3 linked regions of the Homo sapiens genome follow. The protein of the gene in region 1 interacts with the protein of each later gene in a pairwise test. Each region holds a gene or a part of one and is shown in the gene's direction. Other genes may lie near its edges. The genes, in order: AIRIM, C1orf94 and RUSC1.

Evidence for each region.
Region 2: the proteins of AIRIM (region 1) and C1orf94 interact in binary tests that used the Homo sapiens proteins (3 or more experiments, as listed by UniProt).
Region 3: the proteins of AIRIM (region 1) and RUSC1 interact in binary tests that used the Homo sapiens proteins (3 or more experiments, as listed by UniProt).

The regions. Positions count from the first base shown.
Region 1 is NC_000001.11:37,683,929-37,687,749, reverse strand, and holds part of AIRIM (AFG2-interacting ribosome maturation factor), read left to right. Parts: intron 1-1,297; coding exon 1,298-1,477; intron 1,478-3,821. UniProt on the Homo sapiens protein: Part of the 55LCC heterohexameric ATPase complex which is chromatin-associated and promotes replisome proteostasis to maintain replication fork progression and genome stability.
Region 2 is NC_000001.11:34,193,897-34,197,717, forward strand, and holds part of C1orf94 (uncharacterized protein C1orf94), read left to right. Parts: intron 1-3,328; coding exon 3,329-3,821.
Region 3 is NC_000001.11:155,319,309-155,322,908, forward strand, and holds the start of RUSC1 (AP-4 complex accessory subunit RUSC1), read left to right. Parts: upstream 1-1,585; 5' UTR 1,586-1,683; exon of another isoform or gene 1,684-2,379; 5' UTR 2,380-2,465; coding exon 2,466-3,600. Other genes in the region: FDPS (farnesyl pyrophosphate synthase), read left to right, coding at 303-380, 486-620, 1,101-1,301. UniProt on the Homo sapiens protein: Associates with the adapter-like complex 4 (AP-4) and may therefore play a role in vesicular trafficking of proteins at the trans-Golgi network. Signaling adapter which plays a role in neuronal differentiation.

The DNA.
Region 1 (3,821 bases):
TTTATTTTTATTTTATTTTTAGAGACAGTCTCACCCTGTTGCCCAGGCTGAAGTGCAGCGGTATGATCATAGCTTACTGTAGCCTCTAACTCCTCCTGCCAGCCTCCTGAGTAGCTGGGATTCCAAGAGCATGCCACCATACCTAGCTAATTTTTAAAATTTTTTGTGGAGATAGTCTTGCCATATTGCCCAGGCTGGTCTCAAATTCCTGGCTTCAAGCTGTCCTCTGGCCTTGCCCTCCCAAACTACTGGGATTACAGGCATGCCACTGCACCTGTTTTTTTTTTTAAATGTTTTAATTAAAAAAAAATATATATTAGCTGGGCACGGTGGCTCATGCCTGTAATCCTAACACTTTGGGAGGCCGAGGTAGGTGGATCACCTGAGGTCGGGAGTTCGAGACCAGCCTGACCAACATGGAGAAACCCCGTCTCTACTGAAAAAAAAATACAAAATTAGCCGGGTGTGGTGGCGCATGCCTGTAATCCCAGCTACTCAGGAGGCTGAGGCAGGAGAATCACTTGAACCCGGGAGCCAGAGGTTGTGGTGAGCCAAGATCGCACCATTGCACTCCAGCCTGGGCGACAAGAACGAAACTCCATCTCAATAAAAAAACAAAAAACAAAAACAAAAACTATACACACACACACACACACACACACACACACACACACACACACACACACACACTTTTGAGACGGAGTCTCGCTCTGTCACCCAGGTTGAAGTGCAGTGACGCGAACTTGGCTCACTGCAACCTCTGCCTCTGGGTTCAAGTGATTCTCGTGCCTCCCGAGTAGCTGGGTCTACAGGTGTGCACCACCACACCTGGCTAATTTTTGTATATTTAGTAGAGACGGGGTTTTGGGACATTGGCTGGTCTCAAACTCCTGACCTCAGGTGATCCACCCCGCTCAGCCTCCCAAAGCTGGGATTACAGGCAACAGCCTCTGCACCCAGCCCCTTTCTTGATTCTTGAGCCACCCGTACCTCCAAGACACTGTCACTAATCTCCTTAGACCAGTGGTCTCAATTGGAGATGGTTTTTCTATGAGGGGACATTTGGCATCATCTAGAGGCATTATTGGTTGTTATGGCTTATGGAGGGTATAGGTATAGTTTACACCTGTCATTTAGTGGGTAGGGGCCAGGCATGCTCCTACACGTCCTACAATGTACAGGGCAGCCCTTCACAACAGAGAATCATGTAGTCCAAAATATCAGTAGTGCCAAAATTGAGAAACCTTCCTTTATACATGTCTCATGATATTGCCTAATGTCAGACTCTTTCTTGCAGAGCCATCCTCCTCAAGGTGCGAGACATGGTCAGCAGCCATGTGGAGCGAGTGTTTCAGATCTATGAGCAACACGCAGACACAGTTGGCATTGATGCTGTCCTGCAGCCTTCAGCAGTGAGCCCCTCTGTGGCTGACATGTTGGAATGGTTGCAGGATATTGAGAGACATTATCGAAAGTCGTATCCTTTGCACACATTTCAGGTCACAGCCAGAGCTGTTCTAAGTCTTTCAAATTTCAGTTTTCACAAGATTGGAAAACTAAGTAGTTTGAGTCAGTTCTCTTTGGTTCCTGAACTTGGATTCTTCCTGCATTCCTTTGTATAATCCTTCCTCTAATAATTTATCGAGTAGCTACTACCTGTCAGGCACTGTTCTTGGTGCAAAGAGACAGGCATTGAAAAAGGCAAGTAGAATGCTGAATGGCGATAAGTGTTATGGAGAAAAATAAAGCAGGGAAAGTGAGGAGTGAGGGTGGAGTTGTGATTTAAAATAGGGTGGTCAGAGCAGGCTTCATGAGAAAGTGATATTTGAGCAGAGATCTGAAGAGGGTAAGGGAAAGAGCTATGTGGCTATTTGGGGAGAGAAAGTTACTAGGCAGAGGAAACATCAAATGCAAAGGCCTTGTGGTAAGAACATTCCTGGTCTATTCAGGAAATAGTAAGGAGGCTAGACTGGAGCATGAGGAGGAGCCTAACAGCAGGTGAGGGTAGAAAGACAGGGGGCTCGACTTTCTAGGGCCTTGAAGGTCTTTGAAAGAATTTGGGGTCTGGGCGTGGTGGCTCACACCTGTAATCCCAGCCCTTTGGGAAGCTGAGGTGGGAGGACTGCTTGAGCCCGAGAGTTTGAGACCAGCCTGGGCAACATGGTGAAACGCCGTCTCTACAAAAAATACAAAAATTAGCCAGGCATGGTGGTATGTGCCTGAAGTCTGTAATCCCAGCTACTCGGGAGGGTGAAGCTGGAGGATTGCTTGAACTGGGGGAGGTCAAGGCTGCAGTGAGCTGAGATCGTGCCACTGCACTCCAGCCTGGGTGATAAAGTGAAACTCTGTCTCCAAAAAAAAAAAAAAGAATTTTGGGCCAGGCATGATGGTGTGCAGCTATAGTCCCAGCTACTCAGGAGGCTGAGGTGGGAGGGTTGCTTGAGCGTGGGAGGTCAAGGCTGCAGTGAGCCTTGATTGCCAGCCTGGGTGTGATCACCAGCCTAGGTGACAGAGCAAGACCCTGTCTCAAACCACCCCCCGCCCACCCCCCCCCCCCAAAAAAAAGCATTCGAGTGACAGAAAAACCTCTTAGAAACTTGATTAAGGAGTAACAGGATAAGACCTATGTTTTTAACAGTATCATTCTGGCTTCGTTCTAGGGTAAGATTTGGGGTAGTGGGGGCAAGGGTAAAAGCAGAAAGACCAGTTAGTTGAAGCTCTAACATTTTTCTCTCAAAAAAATTTTTTTTTTGCCTAGGAGATGGGGTCTTGCTGTGTTGACCAGGCTGGTCTTGAACTCCTGGCCTTGATGATCCTACCTCCTTGGCTTCCCAAAGTGCTAAGAGTACCGGTGTGAGCCACCATGCCTGGTCTTCTCTCAATTCTTGTCTGACACCTGATTTTAGCCTCTAGCTTAGGTTTCTGCCTTCATGTGAATAATTCCCAAACCCCAACTTTTCTTGTCTCTGGTCTTGACTTTTGGTTTCCTGCAGATGCCTCCAACTGGATTGTTCTTAGAACTGCAAACTCAAGTTTAAAATTGAACTCCTCAATCTAGCCCTCAAATTCAGCCCCCTTTTCCTTGAGTCGTAGAACCCACCCTGTTTTCTCTTTTATTTATTTATTTTTTGAGACAGAGTTTTGCTCTTGTTGCCCAGACTGGGGTGCAATGGCACGATCTTGGCTCACTGCAACCTCCACCTCCCGAGTTCAAGCAATTCTCCTGCCTCAGCCTCCCAAGTAGCTGAGATTACAGACACCTGCCACCACGCCTGGCTAATTTTTGTACTTTTAGTAGAGAGGCGGTTTCACCATGTTGGCTAGGCTGATCTGAAACTCCTGACCTCAGGCCTCCCAAAGTGCTGAGATTACAGGCTCGAGCCACCGCGCCCGGCTTATTTTCCCTTTTAAATGCATTGGTAGCAGTAGTAGTAACAGCAACAGGAGCATGGGCAGAAGGAGCAAGAGCTGCGGCTGACATTACTAAGCACTTGCTATGTGCTAGAATGTTTACACAGTCACTTGTCAAGTCCTTTCCTTCTGTTTCCCTGGTGCTTCTTTGATTTTCCCTCTCTGTCCCCATCCCCTCTGTTGCTTACATGGCTTCTTAGCTCTCACTTGGACTCTTAATTGCCTCTTGACAGTTTTCTCTGTCTAGTTTCTTTCCTTCTAAGCTGACTCCAATGAATGACCTCTATATCTGCAGGAAGTCTGGTTCTGATCCTGATAGTTAGGATCAGAATTGTTCTGTACTGTATAGGAATAGCTCCTGTTGCTAATGGGATAAAGTTCAGAGCCCTGCGTTGGTACTTGGTGTTCTT
Region 2 (3,821 bases), 3.5 Mb from region 1:
CACCAATGCCAGCTTTCTAAGAGCCTCATTGATTCCTGTGGTATGTAGAGGAGAATGGCCTGGAGGGGTTGGTTCTGGAGGCCATATCCCCTGAAACCCACCGTGAGTTCAGAATGGAGACAAGGAGGTGGTTGCAGCTGGGGGGGACATGAGTGTTTCCTTAAACACCACAAAGGCTGCAGTGTGGGAATGAATGGGGAAGATGCTTTCTTCATTGTTCTGGATGCCTGTGAGGAAAAGTTGTGCAGAGGCACATATGGGTGCATCGTAACTAAGATCTAAACATTGATAATTACATTATAATAATTATGCTGTGAGCATTTCTCGAGGGCCCACTATGCACCCAGCTTGTGCTAAGTGTTTTGTACAACTTATAGAATGCTCACAGTCTGACCTTGACAGATGAGGAATACAAGGTGTAGAAGGCAGCTCTTGAGAGGCAGAGCAGGGATTCACACTCAGCCCCTGGTAGTTCCTGTCTGCTAGCCTGGCTTCAGGTTGGGGAGGGCAGGAGTGACCTCCCAGGTGCTGAGAAGGGACCATCATGGGGTGATTTTTGGTACAGGGATCTCAGGGCCCTGTGGGGCTTCTAGAAGCTACTTTGAGTATGTGCGTGTAATATTTGTATAAAATAAAGCAGAAAGCAAATACAGACAAATAGAATGACTAGTGTGTGATGACCCTATGTAACCATTACCTGGCTTTAGCAATGATTAACATATGGCCAATCTTGTTTCATCTATTACTCCCTCTCTCTTCTTTTCCCTCCTCCTGCTGGATTAATTTTAAAGGCATTCCCCGGCATAATTTTCTCTGTAAATAGTATGTATCGCTAAGAGATAAGGACTCTTTGTTGTTGTTAGGCATAACCACAATACCATTATCACAATTTTTAAAAATTGACCTAATTGTACTGTGTCTTTCTAATTCAGTGAAGCTATTGGTGTATGGCTTGCTTTGCAAAGTATTTGGGGAGGGGAGGCAAAAACTAGTCTGACTCCTGTGACTTGAGACTCACCTGTTCCTTTTGAGGTGGATGAAGAGGAAGAAGAGGAGGGGGATCTAAAACTTGAGACCGCAGATTGGCAGCCCCTTTATTCTGATTGTTCTCAGGGGACTCAGCCGGGAAAGTGAGGCCTATTTATAGGCCTAAGTCTAGACATGGGAAGGAGGCAAAGGAAGGGAATAGGTGACAAGTCAGGGAAAGGGGACAGAAGAGAGAGTGGAGGGAAAGAGAAAATAACAGCAAGTGATCTTGCTGCACACATAGCTCCAGTGGCCCTTCAGGAGCTGGCCGGGACCAGCCCACACTAGCTAATGCTCACAGCTGACACTGACTGAATGTTTCCTGTGCACAGGGCACTGTGCTGAGCTCACGTACCAGTGACCTCGCCCAATGCTCCCAACCATCCCATGAGGCAGGTGATGTTAGGTGTCACACCCATTTTACAGGGGAGGACACTGAGGTTCCAGGGTCCGACATGAAAAGAGCAGTGGTGCCTGGATTCAAACCCAGGTCTGTTTGTCTGGAGTCTGCTTTTTGCAGGCTTTACTCTCTGCCTCCAAGCCTGGTGATGTTCCATGTGGGGGTAGAGAGGCTCATGTTCAAGAAGTACGGCTGTCTTGGCTGCTGGACTATTGGTACATTCCCATGTCTTTAGTACATAGCTCTTCCCCAGGGTCCCCAAGCACCCTGGGCTACCAAGTCTTTGCCTCAGGACTCATCAGGACCCAGCAACTAAAGGTTTCCTGTCTGGCACAATAGGAAGCCTCTAAGACTGTAGACTGTGTCCATTCTGATTGACTGTTAAATGCAGTGACTACTCCCCTGGGTCTGTGTATGGTGACATGTGAATTGTGTGCCTGCCTGTTTCTGTTCGTGGGTGTGTGTGTGTGTGTGTGTGTGTGTGTGTGCGTTTGTACACAATAAGCATTACCAGGAAGGCATGGACCCTGCTGGAAGCATTCCATGGTCACCGTTTTGGAGACTCATCATGCCCTCTGAGAGGCTGGCCAGAGCTGGAACCTGTGCTGGACCTCCAGACTGCAAAGCCTAAGCCACAGCAGCTGAGCTCCCCTATGGGACTCCTTGATTTTTTCCCTTGGGTCTTCATCATCTTCTCCTTCAGCGCTCCCATGATAGAAGGCTGAGTAGTTTCCAGAATGCTTGGTGTGGGCCACCTCATCCACTTCTCATAGGAGCCCCTTGAGTAGGCACAGCAGATGGTTCTAGGCTGGTGGCTCTTGTCCTCCTGGGTGCCTGCTTGCCAAGAGTGCTGGTGAGGTGGGCGGGGCCACCAGCCAGGCCAGTAGGATTGCAATCCTCTCTACACCTGGAGAGAAGTGGCAACGAGGAGCCTAAAAGCCAGGAGACCATCAGGTGCTATCAGACAGGTGCAGACCAGCAAGTGTGCAGCGGAGGACCCAGGGTCCAAGGGGCAGGTTGAGGCCATTATTTAGGTTCAGGAAGATCCTGGTGAATCAGTGCAGGGATCAGTGCAGGGATCTCCCCACTGCTGGTGCTGTACATGAAGGGAGGCCCAGTCCAGAGGCTGTGATCGGGTCAGAGGCCATGCCAGAGTGAACATGAGTATCCAAGAGGCTACCGTATGAGATCCAGGGGCGGGGACCAACTAAGGCTGACAGTGGTGTAAACATGAGAGCTGACCTTTGAATCGCCCTTACTCTATGCCAGACACCATTCAAAGTGCTTTGCACCTCTATGATACTCCTAGTAATGAGAGGAGGAGACAGAATACCAAGATGCTGAACAACCTGCCCAGGGTCACACCGATGGGAGTTGACTGGATCAGGGTGTAAGCTTAGGCTGTCCACTCCACCATTCTGCAGTGAGGTGATGGGGGCTGCGCTACTCTCCTGGGGGCTTCCCAGGGCTCAGCCCCAGCACCCTAGACTCTGCACTTAGAGCTGTTGGCTTGCTCCTGACCCCTTTGCTGCTGGGCAAAATTCCCCAGTGAACCCCTTCTCTGGTCTTTCATTGCTTCAGGTTCTGAGCATGAAGAACAAGGAGGAATGGACTAGAATTAAGGCTCAGTGAGGCTGTGACTTGCCCCAGCTCACTCAGCAAGGTTGTTGGGAGAGGATCCAGGTTTCCCCATTTTTCAAAACCATGCTCTCAGTGCTGCATCCTACCGCTGTGGTATAGGACCCTCTGGGGGTCCAGTGTGTCTGCTGGGTTATCTTGCCTGGAAGTGTGTTTTTGTCATGTTATGCATCCATCTCCCTTTTCTGGGGCCTATGTCCTTCTGCAAAGCCACGCCTTGGTGAGCTGGCACTAACACCGTCTGTCTCTCTGACCCATTTCCAGAGCTCTGGAGCTCAGCAGTGGCAAAGATGAGATCTCCTTGTTGGTGGAACAGGAGTTCCTAAGCCTCACCAAAGAGCACTCGATCCTGGTCGAAGAGAGTTCTGGGGAGCTGGAGGTACCCGGCAGCTCTCCCGAGGGGACCAGAGAGCTGGCTCCCTGCATTCTTGCCCCTCCTCTAGTGGCAGGCAGTAATGAGCGCCCCAGAGCCTCCATCATTGTCGGAGACAAGCTTCTGAAGCAGAAGGTGGCCATGCCCGTTATCAGCAGCAGGCAGGACTGTGATTCTGCCACTTCTACTGTCACAGACATTCTGTGTGCCGCCGAGGTCAAGAGCAGCAAGGGGACAGAGGACAGGGGCCGCATCCTAGGTGACTCCAACTTGCAAGTCAGCAAGCTTCTGTCCCAGTTCCCACTGAAGTCCACTGAGACATCCAAGGTCCCTGACAACAAGAATGTGCTGGACAAGACAAGGGTCACCAAGGACTTCCTACAG
Region 3 (3,600 bases), about 120 Mb from region 1:
TGGCAAAAATATTAGGAAGGTGGATCAGAATGACTTGGGGACTGACATTTGTGAGGGAAGAGACAGGCTGTGCACCTCTAGAATGGATTCATCTCTTTTATGACTCCCAGGAAGGCCTAGCCAAAAATAAGTGGGATTGAGGTTGGACCATCAGTCAGGACTGTCTAGGTCAGGGAAGCCAAGATGTCTGAAGAGAGAGGAAAGATTTGGGGCTGCAGTAGGGCAAGACCCCATGGGAGGAAGCAGCCAGGAAGATGCCGGCACCCCTGGGGTTTGGCTTATTAACCCCCCTTTCCCTGCAGGCAGGAATTGATGGCGAGAAGGAGCACGCCAATGCCAAGAAGATCCTGCTGGAGATGGGGGAGTTCTTTCAGATTCAGGTAAGAAGGCAGGAGGCAGTAGCAGAGAACAGGCACCAGCTTCACTCCTCCTCTGCCCAGGAACCTCATCCTTCCTCTTTTGCTGCCCTCCCCCTCCCTGCCCAGGATGATTACCTTGACCTCTTTGGGGACCCCAGTGTGACCGGCAAAATTGGCACTGACATCCAGGACAACAAATGCAGCTGGCTGGTGGTTCAGTGTCTGCAACGGGCCACTCCAGAACAGTACCAGATCCTGAAGGTGCCTGAGAGAGGGTGGTGGGTCCCTGAGTTGGTGGAAAGGGATAGAGCAGTGGTTCTCAACTAGAGGCAGTTTTCCTCCCGAGGGGACATTTGGCAATGTCAGCAGACATTTTTTGCCATTGTCATTACAACTCTGTGTGTGTGCATGTGGTACAGACATCTAGTTGGCAGGAGCCAAAGATGTTGCCAAACATGTAGTACACAGAACAGCTCCCCCAGACAGGATTATCTGGTCCCAAATTTCAATAGTGCCAAGGTGGAGAAACCCTGGAGTAGAGGATGCCTGGTATGAGGCAATATTTGGGATAGGGAAGGGAAGCTTGGGATTTTAGCTACGTAGAGACACTTGAAAATTGGAGGGAGGAAAGGAGTGGGTGGCTTTGGAGATGTTCTGGAATATGTGAATGAGGGGAGTGGAGGGGTCCTGGAGGCTCTGGGGAAGGCCAAGCCCGTTTTCCTGTCTTTCAACCTCTTCCAGGAAAATTACGGGCAGAAGGAGGCTGAGAAAGTGGCCCGGGTGAAGGCGCTATATGAGGAGCTGGATCTGCCAGCAGTGTTCTTGCAATATGAGGAAGACAGTTACAGCCACATTATGGCTCTCATTGAACAGTACGCAGCACCCCTGCCCCCAGCCGTCTTTCTGGGGCTTGCGCGCAAAATCTACAAGCGGAGAAAGTGACCTAGAGATTGCAAGGGCGGGGAGAGGAGGCTCTCAATAAATAATCGTGTAACCTTCTTGTGGTTCTGTTCTTGCTCGGCCCAGCCAGAGTCTGGCTCTTTCCAGAATGTGCAGGGTGGGGTGCTGGGAGGACTCGCTGCACGGAACCAGGACCCAGGGGCCAAAAGCTTAGGATATATCAAACCCTCTAGGTGGGTGACAAAAGACGCTAAACGCTGGGGGCGGGTCTGAGCTACGCCACGCCCATGCGCGAAGGGGTGCAGCTGCGCAGCGCAGGGTAGGTTGTGCTAGTGCCCCTCCCCTCCCGCTCTGTGCCCCGCCGGGCGGGGACCGTGGGAGCCGCGGACAAGCCCAAGGCCGGAGCGGTTCCAGGAGGACCCTGGTGAGGAGGGCTCGGCCCATGGGTGTAGACCGATGGACCTGGGCACGAGGGGCGGGGCAGGACAAGGGAGCAGGAGAAATGAATAGAGAAAGGGTGCGGTGGTGGCTGAACGATGGAGACGAATGCGGAGAGAATGGACATACCGCTGTTCCGAGGGGCGAGGGCGCAGGCTGGAGCCCGGCCGAGGCAGCCAGCAGATGCGGAGTTGACAAGCTGACGGCTGCTCCATCCTTTTCCTCTCCAGCCCCCACCCCTTTCCTGCATTCACCAGACAAACTCTGCGTATTGCCCCACCCCCATCCTCCACCTCCTTTCAGGGCATCTGGGTGGGTCTCCCTGGGTCCCTTCCTCTGGGAGTAAGGGGTAGGCTGGAGGGCAGGGCCAGATTGCGGCAGCAGGGACCTGGAGGTCCATTCTGGGCCCGGACCTCTTCCAGGCCCCCGCCCCCCTTCGGAGATCCAGAGCGCAGCCGCGTTCTCTGACCCTCCCGGCTCCATTCCCGGGGGGTTACATTCGACTCCATCTGCAAACACTGCAGTGGAAACTAATGGTCAGTCGATTGCGATTTGCATCTCATTGAAATATCTTCCAAAGCAGCCAGAGCCTTCAGGCCTGCTGCTGCCGTCAAGTCACCTCGGTGTCCTTCCCCGCAGCTCTTGTCCTCACTGGCCGGGCTTCACCACCTCTGTCTTCTAGGTCTGCACCTGTGGTTGCCAGGTAGGTGGATGTGAGAGACCCTACCCTTCTGGTTCTCTAGAAGCCATCCCATCGCCGCTAGCATCATGCTGTCCCCTCAGAGAGCTTTACTCTGCAACCTCAACCACATCCACCTCCAGCACGTCTCCCTGGGCCTGCACTTGTCCCGCCGTCCTGAGCTACAGGAGGGGCCTTTGAGCACACCCCCTCCTCCAGGAGACACTGGGGGCAAGGAGAGCAGGGGCCCCTGCAGTGGCACCCTGGTGGACGCCAATTCCAACAGCCCAGCTGTGCCCTGCCGGTGCTGCCAGGAGCACGGTCCGGGCCTAGAAAACCGGCAGGACCCGTCACAGGAGGAAGAGGGGGCTGCCTCTCCCTCAGACCCAGGCTGCTCCTCCTCACTCAGCTCCTGCTCAGATCTTAGCCCCGATGAGTCCCCTGTCTCAGTCTACTTGCGGGACCTCCCTGGTGATGAGGATGCCCACCCTCAGCCCAGTATCATCCCCCTGGAGCAGGGCTCCCCACTGGCTTCAGCAGGCCCTGGCACCTGCTCACCGGACAGCTTCTGCTGCTCTCCTGATTCCTGCTCCGGAGCTTCTTCTTCACCCGATCCTGGCCTGGACTCGAACTGCAACGCCCTGACCACCTGCCAGGACGTCCCTTCCCCAGGCTTGGAGGAAGAGGACGAGAGGGCGGAGCAGGATCTCCCTACCTCTGAGCTCTTAGAGGCGGATGATGGGAAAATCGACGCTGGGAAAACGGAGCCCAGTTGGAAGATTAACCCAATTTGGAAAATTGACACAGAGAAAACTAAAGCTGAATGGAAAACCACTGAAAACAATAACACTGGTTGGAAAAACAACGGGAATGTTAACTCTAGCTGGAAAAGTGAACCTGAAAAATTCGACTCTGGTTGGAAAACCAACACAAGAATAACTGATTCTGGCTCGAAAACAGATGCAGGGAAAATTGATGGAGGATGGAGAAGTGACGTCAGCGAGGAGCCGGTGCCCCACCGGACAATCACGTCCTTCCACGAGCTGGCCCAGAAGCGCAAGCGGGGCCCAGGGCTGCCCCTTGTCCCGCAGGCGAAGAAAGATCGCAGTGACTGGCTCATAGTCTTCTCGCCCGACACCGAGCTCCCCCCCTCGGGGTCGCCGGGCGGCTCCTCGGCACCTCCTCGGGAAGTCACCACCTTCAAGGAACTCCGGTCCCGAAGCC